3 linked regions of the Homo sapiens genome follow. The protein of the gene in region 1 interacts with the protein of each later gene in a biochemical or structural test. Each region holds a gene or a part of one and is shown in the gene's direction. Other genes may lie near its edges. The genes, in order: DLG4, LRP2 and TANC1.

Region 1 (3,746 bases):
TCCCCCAACCCTGCGCTCGGCCTAAGCCAGGCTCTCTCTGCAGTGCACTATGCTCGCCCCATCATCATCCTTGGGCCCACCAAGGACCGCGCCAACGATGATCTTCTCTCCGAGTTCCCCGACAAGTTTGGATCCTGTGTTCCCCGTGAGTGCTGGGGCCTTGGATGGAGGAGAAGGTGGAAGTGGGGGTGGGGCAGGGGAGGCCCATCCCTGGGGCCATAGGCAGAGCCTCCTGGGGGATCGGTGTGTAGGGAGATACAGGGTTTCTCCGAGAAGGGGTGCTTCTCAGCCACCCTCTCATTCCATAGTACCCATGCCCAGGCCAGAGACTTGGAGGCCCTGGAGGGTGCTAGGGGAAGCGGTTCTGGCCCTCTGCAGTCTTGGTCTCCCTGGCAGCTCCCTTTCACCAAAGGACCAGCTGGGCACTATGGGGATTTGATTGAAGTAGGCAGGATTTAAGCTAGAGGGATGGTGGTTAGATCTTTGGGGGGTGGGGTGACTTCCTGGCAGATACGACACGGCCCAAGCGGGAGTATGAGATAGATGGCCGGGATTACCACTTTGTGTCGTCCCGGGAGAAAATGGAGAAGGACATTCAGGCGCACAAGTTCATTGAGGCCGGCCAGTACAACAGCCACCTCTATGGGACCAGCGTCCAGTCCGTGCGAGAGGTGGCAGAGCAGGTAGGACCTGGCGGGCACCCGGTCCTCTTCCTTCTCCCCTCTCCCCACCCCACTGCCTCCCTCCAGCTTTCTCTAACTCTCTCTCTCTCTGTCTCTTTCCCTGCTGGGTCTCCACTCCGCTCCTCCACCTCCTTCTCCTCTTGGGCAACTCTGTCTGACTGCCTGCTCTCTGCCCCTGCTCTCTCTCCCACCTCCCTCACTTCCTGACCCCAAATTCCCCACCACCATCTGGCCTCTTTCTCTCCCCACTCCCTTCTCCTTGCCCCATTTCTCCTCTCTTCCCATGGCCTTGTCTTTGGTGGCTTGGCCTTCCCCACTGGGTCCCTCCCTTTTTCCTGACTCCCCGCTGGCCCTCTCCCCTGCCTCACCCTTTTCTGGGGCCCGGCTCCCCTCTCCCACTCCTCTGCTAACTCCTTTCCTTTCCCCGCTGCTCCTCACCCTGCCCTCCCTCCCTCCCTCCACGGTTCCTTTCTCCATCTGCCTCACTCCCTCCCATCTGTCTCCTTGTTCCTTCCATCTGTCTGTCCTCTGTCCGTCCTCCCCTCCCTCCTCCCTCTATCCTACTTCCTTTCTCCTTTTTCTTGGCTTTCCTTCCCGCCTGTGTCACCTCTGCCTTGCACACCCCGCCCCACTCGCTGCTGCCCCGGCTCTGCCACCATCTCTTGGGTCCCTGCCTGCCTGGTGCTCCTCCCTTCCTCCATTCTGTCCTGTCCCTGCCCTCTCCCGTGCTCTCCATCTTCCCTTTCCTTTCCCTCTGTCTTTTACTCTGTCCATACCCGCTTCCTGCCTGACTCTCTGCCCCCGTGTTTCTTGACATCCATGTCACTCCCCTTCGGCCAACTTCCCATTCCCCACCTCTCCCCGTCCGTGTCCCTCCGGCACTGCTCTCTGTCCTTTCTCGCCACCCGCTGGCCCCCCTCCGCCCACCCTGCCTGCCCCCAGGGGAAGCACTGCATCCTCGATGTCTCGGCCAATGCCGTGCGGCGGCTGCAGGCGGCCCACCTGCACCCCATCGCCATCTTCATCCGCCCCCGCTCCCTGGAGAATGTGCTGTGAGTATGGTCCTGGGGGCCTCCCCTTTGCTCCCCCAACACCTGTGGCCCTGGGCCTCACAAGGCGTCTGCGTTCAACTCTCCCTTCAGAACCCTGGACAGCGGTTTCAGCAGCCCCTGAGGGGGATCCCTGGAACCCAGAGGATGTGGGGGAATCGGGTCTTTCCCCTCCTCTCCTGCCTTGGCTAGACAGGACTACATTTCCCAGCAGCCCCTGGGGCATACCAGCTGGGGCGAGTCAGGGCCTCTAGGGCTGTTGGGAATTGGAGTCCGAATCCCATCTCTGGGGCTGAAGGCTGGAAGGATGAAGCTCCGTAGATGTCCCTGGAGTAGCCACACCTGGCTGGGGCGGTTGCGGGTGGCAGGGGGGTGGGGGGTGGTTCTCATCTGTGGCCCCAGAGGATATTGGGAATTGTATTTTTTTTTTTGCTATGTGCTCCAAATAGAAGAATACTTAACATTCCTGGATAGAGGAGATAAAAGGCAGGGTCAGGTGGGTCCAGTCTCAGGCCTGCTCTCCCTCCCTCTTCACAGAGAGATTAACAAGCGGATCACAGAGGAGCAAGCCCGCAAAGCCTTCGACAGAGCCACCAAGCTGGAGCAGGAGTTCACAGAGTGCTTCTCAGGTGAGGCCACAGCAAGGCTGTTGCCAGCATGTAGGGTGCCCTTGCTCGGATTAGAAAGAGCTCCCCCGCCACCCCCAGTGGATGGCTTAGAAAGAGGTGCCCCTGTGGGCGCGGCATGGTGGCTCACGCCTGTAATCCCAGCACTGGCGGGCACCTGTAATCCCAGCTACTCGGTAGGCCGAGGCAGGAGAATCGCTTGAACCTGGGAGGCAGAGGTTGCAGTGAGCCGAGATCGCACCACTGCACTCCAGCCTGGCGCTAAGAGCAAAACTCAATCTCAAAAAAAAAAAAAAAAAAAAAAAAGAGGTGCCCCTGTGGGCGGGTGCAGCCCCAGGACTTATGGCTTGGAGAGTTGGAAAGAGGTGCCCCTTCCTCTGGGCTGGTGCAACCCCCTTGGCCAGGTGTCCTCTGGCCCTTCCTTGGCCTCACTCCCTGCTCCACCCCACTCCCAGCCATCGTGGAGGGTGACAGCTTTGAGGAGATCTACCACAAGGTGAAGCGTGTCATCGAGGACCTCTCAGGCCCCTACATCTGGGTTCCAGCCCGAGAGAGACTCTGATTCCTGCCCTGGCTTGGCCTGGACTCGCCCTGCCTCCATCACCTGGGCCCTTGGTCTGGACTGAATTGCCCAAGCCCTTGGCTCCCCCCGGCCTCCCTCCCACCCCTTCTTATTTATTTCCTTTCTAACTGGATCCAGCCTGTTGGAGGGGGGACACTCCTCTGCATGTATCCCCGCACCCCAGAACTGGGCTCCTGAACGCCAGGAACCTGGGGTCTGGGGGGGAGCTGGGCTCCTTGTTCCGAGCCCTTGCTCCTTAGGATCCCCGCCCCCACCTGCCCCCAATGCACACACAGACCCACCGGGGGCCACCTGCCCTCCCCCATCCTCTCCCACACACATTCCAGAAGTCAGGGCCCCCTCGAGGAGCACCCGCTGCAGGGATGCAGGGCCACAGGCCTCCGCTCTCTCCTAAGGCAGGGTCTGGGGTCACCCCTGCCCTCATCGTAATTCCCCATGTTCCTTGATTTCTCATTTATTTTTTCCACTTTTTTTCTTCTCAAAGGTGGTTTTTTGGGGGGAGAAGCAGGGGACTCCGCAGCGGGCCCCTGCCTTCCACATGCCCCCACCATTTTTCTTTGCCGGTTTGCATGAGTGGAAGGTCTAAATGTGGCTTTTTTTTTTTTTTTTCCTGGGAATTTTTTTGGGGAAAAGGGAGGGATGGGTCTAGGGAGTGGGAAATGCGGGAGGGAGGGTGGGGGGCAGGGGTCGGGGGTCGGGTGTCCGGGAGCCAGGGAAGACTGGAAATGCTGCCGCCTTCTGCAATTTATTTATTTTTTTCTTTTGAGAGAGTGAAAGGAAGAGACAGATACTTGAAACTTGGTGT
Region 2 (3,746 bases), on another chromosome or scaffold:
TTGGCCAGAGCACAGACCTCTGGATTTCCCAATCCAGGAATCTCTCCCACTCTTTCCCACAACGCTGCCCGCTCCACCTTTTTTTCTTTAAGCCTAAGTTTTCTCTTTTTGTGTCTATTTATCTCTTTTTGTCTTTCCAAAGTAACACCTATCCTTTCCCTCCCCTAGCCCCCACACCTAAAGCTGCGCCTACCACTGCAGCCCACGGAAGCTACGCGATCCGGACTGTTGGGGTCAGCAGAGCCCCGGACGACCTGTGCCCCGGGGAAAGGGGCTGGCAGTAATTGGCAGGTTCTCGCCCCTGGGGAAGGGAGGCAGCGGGAACCTGTCCAGCGACCACGTGCGTTCAGGGCTGTCTCCTCCATGCGTCACGGCCCCTTCGCTGGAGGGAAAGGGCTCCTGACTTCTTGGACCAGGATCCGGAGCCTGGGACTAGCTGCCGCGCTGGTTCAGGGGCTGGAGCTGGAGATGATGGGATGGCCTCAGGCCCGCAAACAGCCCCTTCTCACACAGGGTTCCCACCACCGGGAAATAACTTGCATCAACCCTCCTTTTTTACCCCTCCCTGTGGGCTCTGATGTCACGTACAGGCTGAGGACGTGCGCTGAGGGCGGGTGTAAGGCCACTTGTGCTTTTGGCTTCCGGGCCCCTTGCCAGCCTGTCCAAAGCGGCCCCAAAGAAGGGAGGCTAGGGGTTCCCTGAACCTCTCGTGTTTCTCCTTCTTATAAAAGGGTACCGGAACCATGGAGAAGACGTTCGCTCTTTTTCAATTTTGCTTCAAAATGAGCAGACTTGTAAGAAGCACGATCTGGCCATGACACCTGTAGATGTGGTGCTGAATAATTGCTAAATAAGGATCCAACCTCCCCAACAAAGATCCACCTCCCTCTCTAATTTGTAAAAACACAAAGCACCCCATCTCAGCAGCCTGTATCCTATCAGGGGAAACCAAGATATCCGAAGGAGCCTAGAGAGATCAGGCCAGGAATGAAGGTCACAGATCTCCATCCAGCAGGCTCTTTACTCCTTCCCTTCCCTACCCCCGCCTCTTTCCCTTTCTTTCTCTTTCCTTCATTTTTACTTGTCTGGTTGTGCTTTCCTTTTCCATTTCTTATTTTTTCTTTCTCTTCTCTATTCTTGACTTTCCTCCTCGTCCATTTCTTTCCATTGCTCATTTAGTAAAACTGCGTCCGTGCAGATTTCCCCGTGAGCCGCCTCGCCGGCTTCTGTGCGGGGCAAACCCTGCGGAGAGGCGAGGGCAGCGCGTGTGCACGTGTGAGTGTGCCTGTGAGAGTGTGCGCACAGGAGTGTGCTCTTGTATGCACGCGTAAAGGGGACTGTGTATGTCGGCGTTGAAGTGTGACTGTGGAATGTGCGCGCGTGTGTGACTGGCGTGTATGAGTGAATCTGTGTCAGTTGGTGTGACACTTAGGAGTGCATGCGCCTGTATGAGTGCGTGTGTGAGTGTGCACACGCCTGTGTGAGTGTCCCTGTGTGAGCACGCGTGTGTTCGAGTGCCCACTCCTCCCCGCGCTGCAAAGTGCAGGGGGCGGGCCGGGCGGCAGGGGGCCTGCCCGCTGGATTCCCGCATGCTTGTTCCGGGGCGGTCGGGTCTAAAGGGCTTTATGCACTGTCTGGAGGGTGGGGACTGGCGCGGGTAGAAAACGGGATGCCTCGGGCGTGGGGGCAGGCTTTTGGCCACTAGGAGCTGGCGGAGGTGCAGACCTAAAGGAGCGTTCGCTAGCAGAGGCGCTGCCGGTGCGGTGTGCTACGCGCGCCCACCTCCCGGGGAAGGAACGGCGAGGCCGGGGACCGTCGCGGAGATGGATCGCGGGCCGGCAGCAGTGGCGTGCACGCTGCTCCTGGCTCTCGTCGCCTGCCTAGCGCCGGCCAGTGGCCAAGGTAAGAGCCCAGCCAGAGCCTCTCGTGGAGCCCCCACTTCCCCGGCTGTGGCAGGGTCGGGTCCGCGGGAGGCCGGAGGGGAGAGCGTCCGGGCAGGGGCTAGGGCCGGGCGGCGGCGCGGGAGCTGCTCCCGGTGGGGCGCTCAGGTTGCTTCGCGAAGCCGGAGCGGGAGCGCCCCTCTTCGCTCGCCAGGAACTGAGCGGCAGCAAACTTGAGAAAGCAGCCCCGCCAGTTTCGGTGACAGCGCACCCCACGGAGACCCTGTCTTTGTTCCCACGGGCGTTGGTCCGATGCTCCTGGAAAGCACTTTGCGGGAGAACGAGGTTCTCCGCCGTTTGCAGCCTGCCCTCCCTAGCGGAGTTCTCTGCTGGGCGGCGCGGTCCCGGGCTCTGCTCAGAGCGCAGCTTTCCACCTGCAGCGCCCCTCCCGGGATCCCTTCGCGCGCCCAGGGCCGCGGGCCAGAGCACTCCTCCCACCACCGGCGAAACTTGGTCCCGCGGTGACCCCCAGAGACCGCTCTCACCATACAGATCATTTACGAGCCAAGATAAGGCCGGGAGGTGGGATTGGCCGAGAGAGTGGCTGAGGGACTGGAGTCTTTTCTTGAAGTTTTCCTTTCCAGCTGGGAGCTGGGGGCTTTTGTGTTGATGAATGGGGCCCGTCTGCATGGCCAGAGTTTTGGGGATCGAATGCAGAAAGTTTCTAGTATGAAGTGCTTTAAACTTCTCTCAAGTTGTCCGATAGTTTATGTTTTAACAGAAACAGAGAAGAGGGAAAGAGAGGGAGAAAGAAGCGGAGAGAATAAAACTAGTAAGAAGGGAAGAGGAGAGAGCGTAAGAGAAGCAAATAGGAATAAGGAAAGAAGGAGGGAAGAGAACGACTGGGGCGGGAGAAGAGAGAGAGAGAGGAGAGAGAGGAGAGAGACAGAGAGAGAGAGAGAGAGGGAGAGAGAGAGAGAGAGAGAGAGAGACAGAGAGAGACAGAGAGAGACAGAGAGAGACAGAGAGACAGAGACCCGGCCGAGGATGAATGGGAAGGGCGAGGAGGAGGCTGGAACCGGCGAGCTCTCCCCCTGGCTTTGCGTTGCTAGGTAGCAGCCGGGAGCTGCGTGTGACCGACCACCAGACAGACAGAGGGGACGCTGCTGCCACCGCAGGGACTAATCTGTCTGTGGGGATGGGAGAGTCCCCCCTTTCCCCTCCTGCTCCTTCCCTCCCGTCGGACAACTTAATTGCCCTACAATGAAAATGAAACCCCTATTGTTGTAGGATTAGCCAAAGCAATAAATTGATTTTCCTGGATCACATATTGGGGTTGATGGGTGGGGAATGTGGAAGCCCCCATTTACGGAGGAGTGAGGGGAGGGCTTGTGGATGGGCCGTGGCATGTATTCAAATGGTTAATCTGCTTTCTTTCCTCAATTCTTAGCGTAAGCTCCTTAGAGGGAATCAAGTAAGTAATTATACAGCAACTCCTAGCAGCACCCATTTCAGACTTCCTGGGAAGAAGTTTGGAAACCCTAACAAACCCCACAGGTCTTGCAAAAGTCTTCAGAAAGGCAGGAGAGGCAAGGAGAGATCATTAATAACCTTCCTTTGAACACCCTTTCTCAGTGTTGGTAACGCAGAAAGAGGGTTTATTATTATTGTGCAGAGTTTGCACAATGCTTAGGGTTGTATCTCATGTCCTAAATATAGCTATAGGATTTACTATATGTTCCTGTCAGTGCCTGGCAAAAGGAAATCTTACCTTGATTCATCTATGTCCTTGTACAACCAAAACAGATATTCTTTTTCCTGGGTTGATGATTTAGTCACTAAATAACCAATACCTACTCTTCTTGA
Region 3 (3,746 bases), on another chromosome or scaffold:
GCCTTTCTGGGTCTTGGTTTTCTCATTTTTTTCATCCCTAAAATGGGATTACCTTGCATCCCTAAAGTTCTGTGACTCTCCAAAAGTTTGAGAAATGTAGGAATTCTGAAGCCAGTGCTGTAATGTTAGAACACTGCTATGGGGTTTATAAGGGCTTGATTTACACATTTTATCCCTAACCCTTTATTTGAATAAACCAAGGCCTAGAAAGTTAAATTAGACCTGTATCATCTATAAATAGTTGAGTTGAACTTGAACCAGAGTCTTCTGATTCTCCCTAGTCTCTTCTCCTCTGTTTATTCAAACCTGCCAAACAGACTAAAGTTAATATGTGGCAATTTCTCACAATACATTTTTAGGGTTATATATGAGTTATTTTGATTTCAGAACCCCAGGGTTAACATCTATGCTTTGATGTCAGGGATTAAAAACAGTTCACCAATAATGGTAATAAAACTTTCTCCTCAAGAGAGTTTCAGAAAGTCACATGCTTCAAACTAATCATTTGTTTATTTTCAACTTCTTTTTTATTAAGTAGGCTTCAGGGTGTAATGTGATTTATAATCCGGACTAGTAACCCAGACAGCATTCTTAAGGAAATCACTTCTCAAATCTGTACCTCTTTTTAAAAATAAAAAATGAACATATCATTTGCCTTTGATCTTGGTATCTCTCAGCCTAATTGCAAAGCCTGGGTGAGTATTCCTTTTTTTGGTGTCATCATTCTTGGACTGTTCCTACTGATGGCTGGATAAGTCTGATTTTGCAGCACTTTCCATGCTAAATACATCCTTCCCTTATGCTGTTGGGTTGATGGTAAAGAGGTAGTAGGTTGCAGGTGACCCATTTTTGCTGTGTCTCTAAATGTTTGTGCTTTGTCCTGCTTGCCTAGTTAGCAGCACTCACTGCAGCTTGACACTCATCTGGAGGCTGGTATTGATTTTCTTTAACAGGTTCTAAAATGCAATTATGTGTTAAGCTGTAGGCTCTTTTATGTCTGAGCAGCTTGTCCATCTTCAGCTTTTTAAACTTATTCTCAGAGGAATGTCTTTTCAAAATATTAAGCAATGGGGTTTAAACCTCAATAAGAAGATGTATCAGTGCTCATTGGCTGGGAAGGAGGTGTAGTATATCTGAAATTGCCGCCATTTCCATGAGTGAGAGAAGAGAACATTATGAAGTGCTATTAGCTAGAGAAGTTGGGACACTTTGTACCAGGAGGGCACAAGAGCAGCAAAGGAGAAGAATGATTCTTGGTTTTTAATAATATTATCAGGAGCATGGATTTGGAATGATAGAGGACTTTGAAGAAGGCTTTCAGAGGACATTATCTTGTGGAGAGTGAAAGGAGTTCTCCTGGTTTGGTTTAGCTGTGTTGCTGATGGAACTTGCCCTTCTAGGGTCGGTGTTGTCTTTAGGTTCCCCTGCAGGTGGGTGTGATCAAGGAGAATGTTCTAGAAAGAAGAGTTCCATAGACAGAATGTCAAGGACAAAAGTGTTGCAGAGGGATGACATAGTTCCTGGATTTTAGCACAGATTTTTTCGCTAACATGAGGGAATTTATTAGGGGAAACCTTCCAGTTGTAGAGGTAGACAGATGCGAACCCATCATGTTCAGTTCACATAGCCCAGAGCCACAGTGACTCAACCTCTTCCCTGCCCCACCTCAGCACACCTAGGGTTACGTGCCAGTCATGAACAGTGGCTTATTACCTCTTTGGGTAGGAGATGGGGGTGGAGAGTAGGGAAGTCTCTCAGAAGCACTCAGCTGTGACCTTTTCATGCATGTATACCCATGCAAAAATGGGATCCTCTGTTGCATGAGCTTTTGAAGAAATATGAAAAAGATCATACGTATACGGCTGCTGGTATTATAGCTCTCAAGCCTCACATCCAGAATTGGCCTTTTTGATGTTAGTTCCAATTTGGGAAAGCCCTGGAGGGAACCCGAATTGGCTTGATGCCAGCCAAAGGAGAGTTACGGTTAGACCCATAAAATGGGGCTGTGGGGAGACAAAGTATCCCACAAAGAAGAGGGTTATTGTTAATGGAAGAGGGAGGGAGCTGGATCAACAAAAGAGCTAGCCAGGGCAGTGTACATTTCCACAAGTGGTACTGCTGATCATAACAACATACCAAAGGATATGAAGATTCTTAATGTTGTTGTGATGTACACCCCTGTAGTCTTGAGGGCAGTGGACTTGTCCACATTCTGTGGGACTCTGAATTGCTATGTACACAGACATGAGGGGGTATTGAATTACTGCTAAAAACGTAAGAGTTGGTCATTATTCCCATGTAACCCATTACACTCCCCTCTCTCTGCCATGCTTTGTTCTAAATTACTTGGGATAAGTAACATTAATTATTAATGTTTATTGAGTGCCGGCTGACTCTGAACTACATGTTTGAATTTTAAAAGTCTGTGGATGAAACAGTTTGGTTCTTTCTTCTCCTGTTGTCCTACATACGTAGAATACTATGGCAGGGATGGTCACCATACAACAGCATTCTGTGTTCTGGTCCTCCTTGCTTCTTGTGGCTTAACAACAACTGTTTATTTGCTTGGGATTCAGAAATGGGGGCCAGGTTCCCTGTGCCTAGGCTCACTGGTGCCGTGGTGGTTACATGATTCATTGAGGGCCATTGCTGCAATAGTTTACAACATTATAACCATCCTTGATACCTATGGAAGATTGGTTCCAGGATTCCCACGGATACTAAAATCCTCAAATGCTTAAGTCCCTTATTAAAAATCATGTATTATTTGCATATAGCTTATGCATACCCTCATATATATATATTTTTTAATTTTATTATTTCGAGACAGAGTCTCACTCTGTTACCCAGGCTGGAGCACAGTGGTACAATCTCAGCTACTGCAACCTTTGCCTCCCGGGTTCAAGTGATTCTCCTGCCTCGGCCTCCCGAGTAGCTGGGATTACAGGCATGTGCCACCACGCCTGGCTAATTTTTGTGTTTTTAGTAAAGATGGGGTTTCACCATGTTGGCCAGGCTGGTCTTGAACTCCTGACCTCAGGTGATCCACCTGCCTCAGCCTCCCAAAGTGCTGGGATTACAGGCGTGAGCCACCTTGCCTGGCCTCCTTTGTATTTTATTTTGAGAAAGGGTTTCCATTTGTTGCCCAGGCTGGACTGCACTGGTGTGATCATGGCTCACTGCATCCTCAACCTCCTGGACTCATGCAATCCTTCCACCTCAGCCTCCTAAGTAGCTGGGAGTACAGGTGCACACCACCACACCCAGCTAATTTTTGTATTTTTTTTTTTTTTTTTTTTTTGTAGAGACAGGGTCTTACTATGAGACCAGACCAGGCTGGTCTCAACTCTTGGTTCAAGTGATCCTCCTGCCTTGGCCTCTCAAAGTGCTGGGATTACAGGCATGAGCCAACCCCCCAGTCCTCCTTCATACTTTAAATCATCTCTAGATTATTTATAATACCTAATATAATGTAAATGCTAGATAAATAGTTGTTATTCTGTATTGTTTTAAAATTTATATTTTTATTGTATTTATTGTATTTTATTGTGTTTATTGTATTGTTATCTTTTTTCCAGTGGTCAGTTACTAGAATATTTTTTGAATATTTTCTAACCTAGGTTTGTTGAATCTGTGGCCATGGAACCTGAGATATGGAGGGTTGGGTGTGGAGGGGGGTGACTGTGCTTACTACTATAATCCTGCTTTTGATTAGTTTTCCACTGGCCATGTACTTAAGGGTAAGG

The links.
Region 2: the proteins of DLG4 (region 1) and LRP2 form a complex in vitro, tested with the Homo sapiens proteins (2 studies listed by BioGRID and IntAct, with this or other methods).
Region 3: the proteins of DLG4 (region 1) and TANC1 interact in a test that uses a peptide from one of them, tested with the Homo sapiens proteins (2 studies listed by IntAct, with this or other methods).

Annotation. Positions count from the first base shown.
Region 1 is NC_000017.11:7,189,882-7,193,627, reverse strand, and holds part of DLG4 (disks large homolog 4), read left to right. Parts: intron 1-43; coding exon 44-145; intron 146-510; coding exon 511-683; intron 684-1,625; coding exon 1,626-1,735; intron 1,736-2,269; coding exon 2,270-2,361; intron 2,362-2,813; coding exon 2,814-2,920; 3' UTR 2,921-3,746. UniProt on the Homo sapiens protein: Postsynaptic scaffolding protein that plays a critical role in synaptogenesis and synaptic plasticity by providing a platform for the postsynaptic clustering of crucial synaptic proteins.
Region 2 is NC_000002.12:169,360,477-169,364,222, reverse strand, and holds the start of LRP2 (low-density lipoprotein receptor-related protein 2 precursor), read left to right. Parts: upstream 1-1,688; 5' UTR 1,689-1,823; coding exon 1,824-1,902; intron 1,903-3,746. UniProt on the Homo sapiens protein: Multiligand endocytic receptor. Acts together with CUBN to mediate endocytosis of high-density lipoproteins. Mediates receptor-mediated uptake of polybasic drugs such as aprotinin, aminoglycosides and polymyxin B.
Region 3 is NC_000002.12:158,971,629-158,975,374, forward strand, and holds part of TANC1 (protein TANC1), read left to right. Parts: intron 1-3,746. UniProt on the Homo sapiens protein: May be a scaffold component in the postsynaptic density.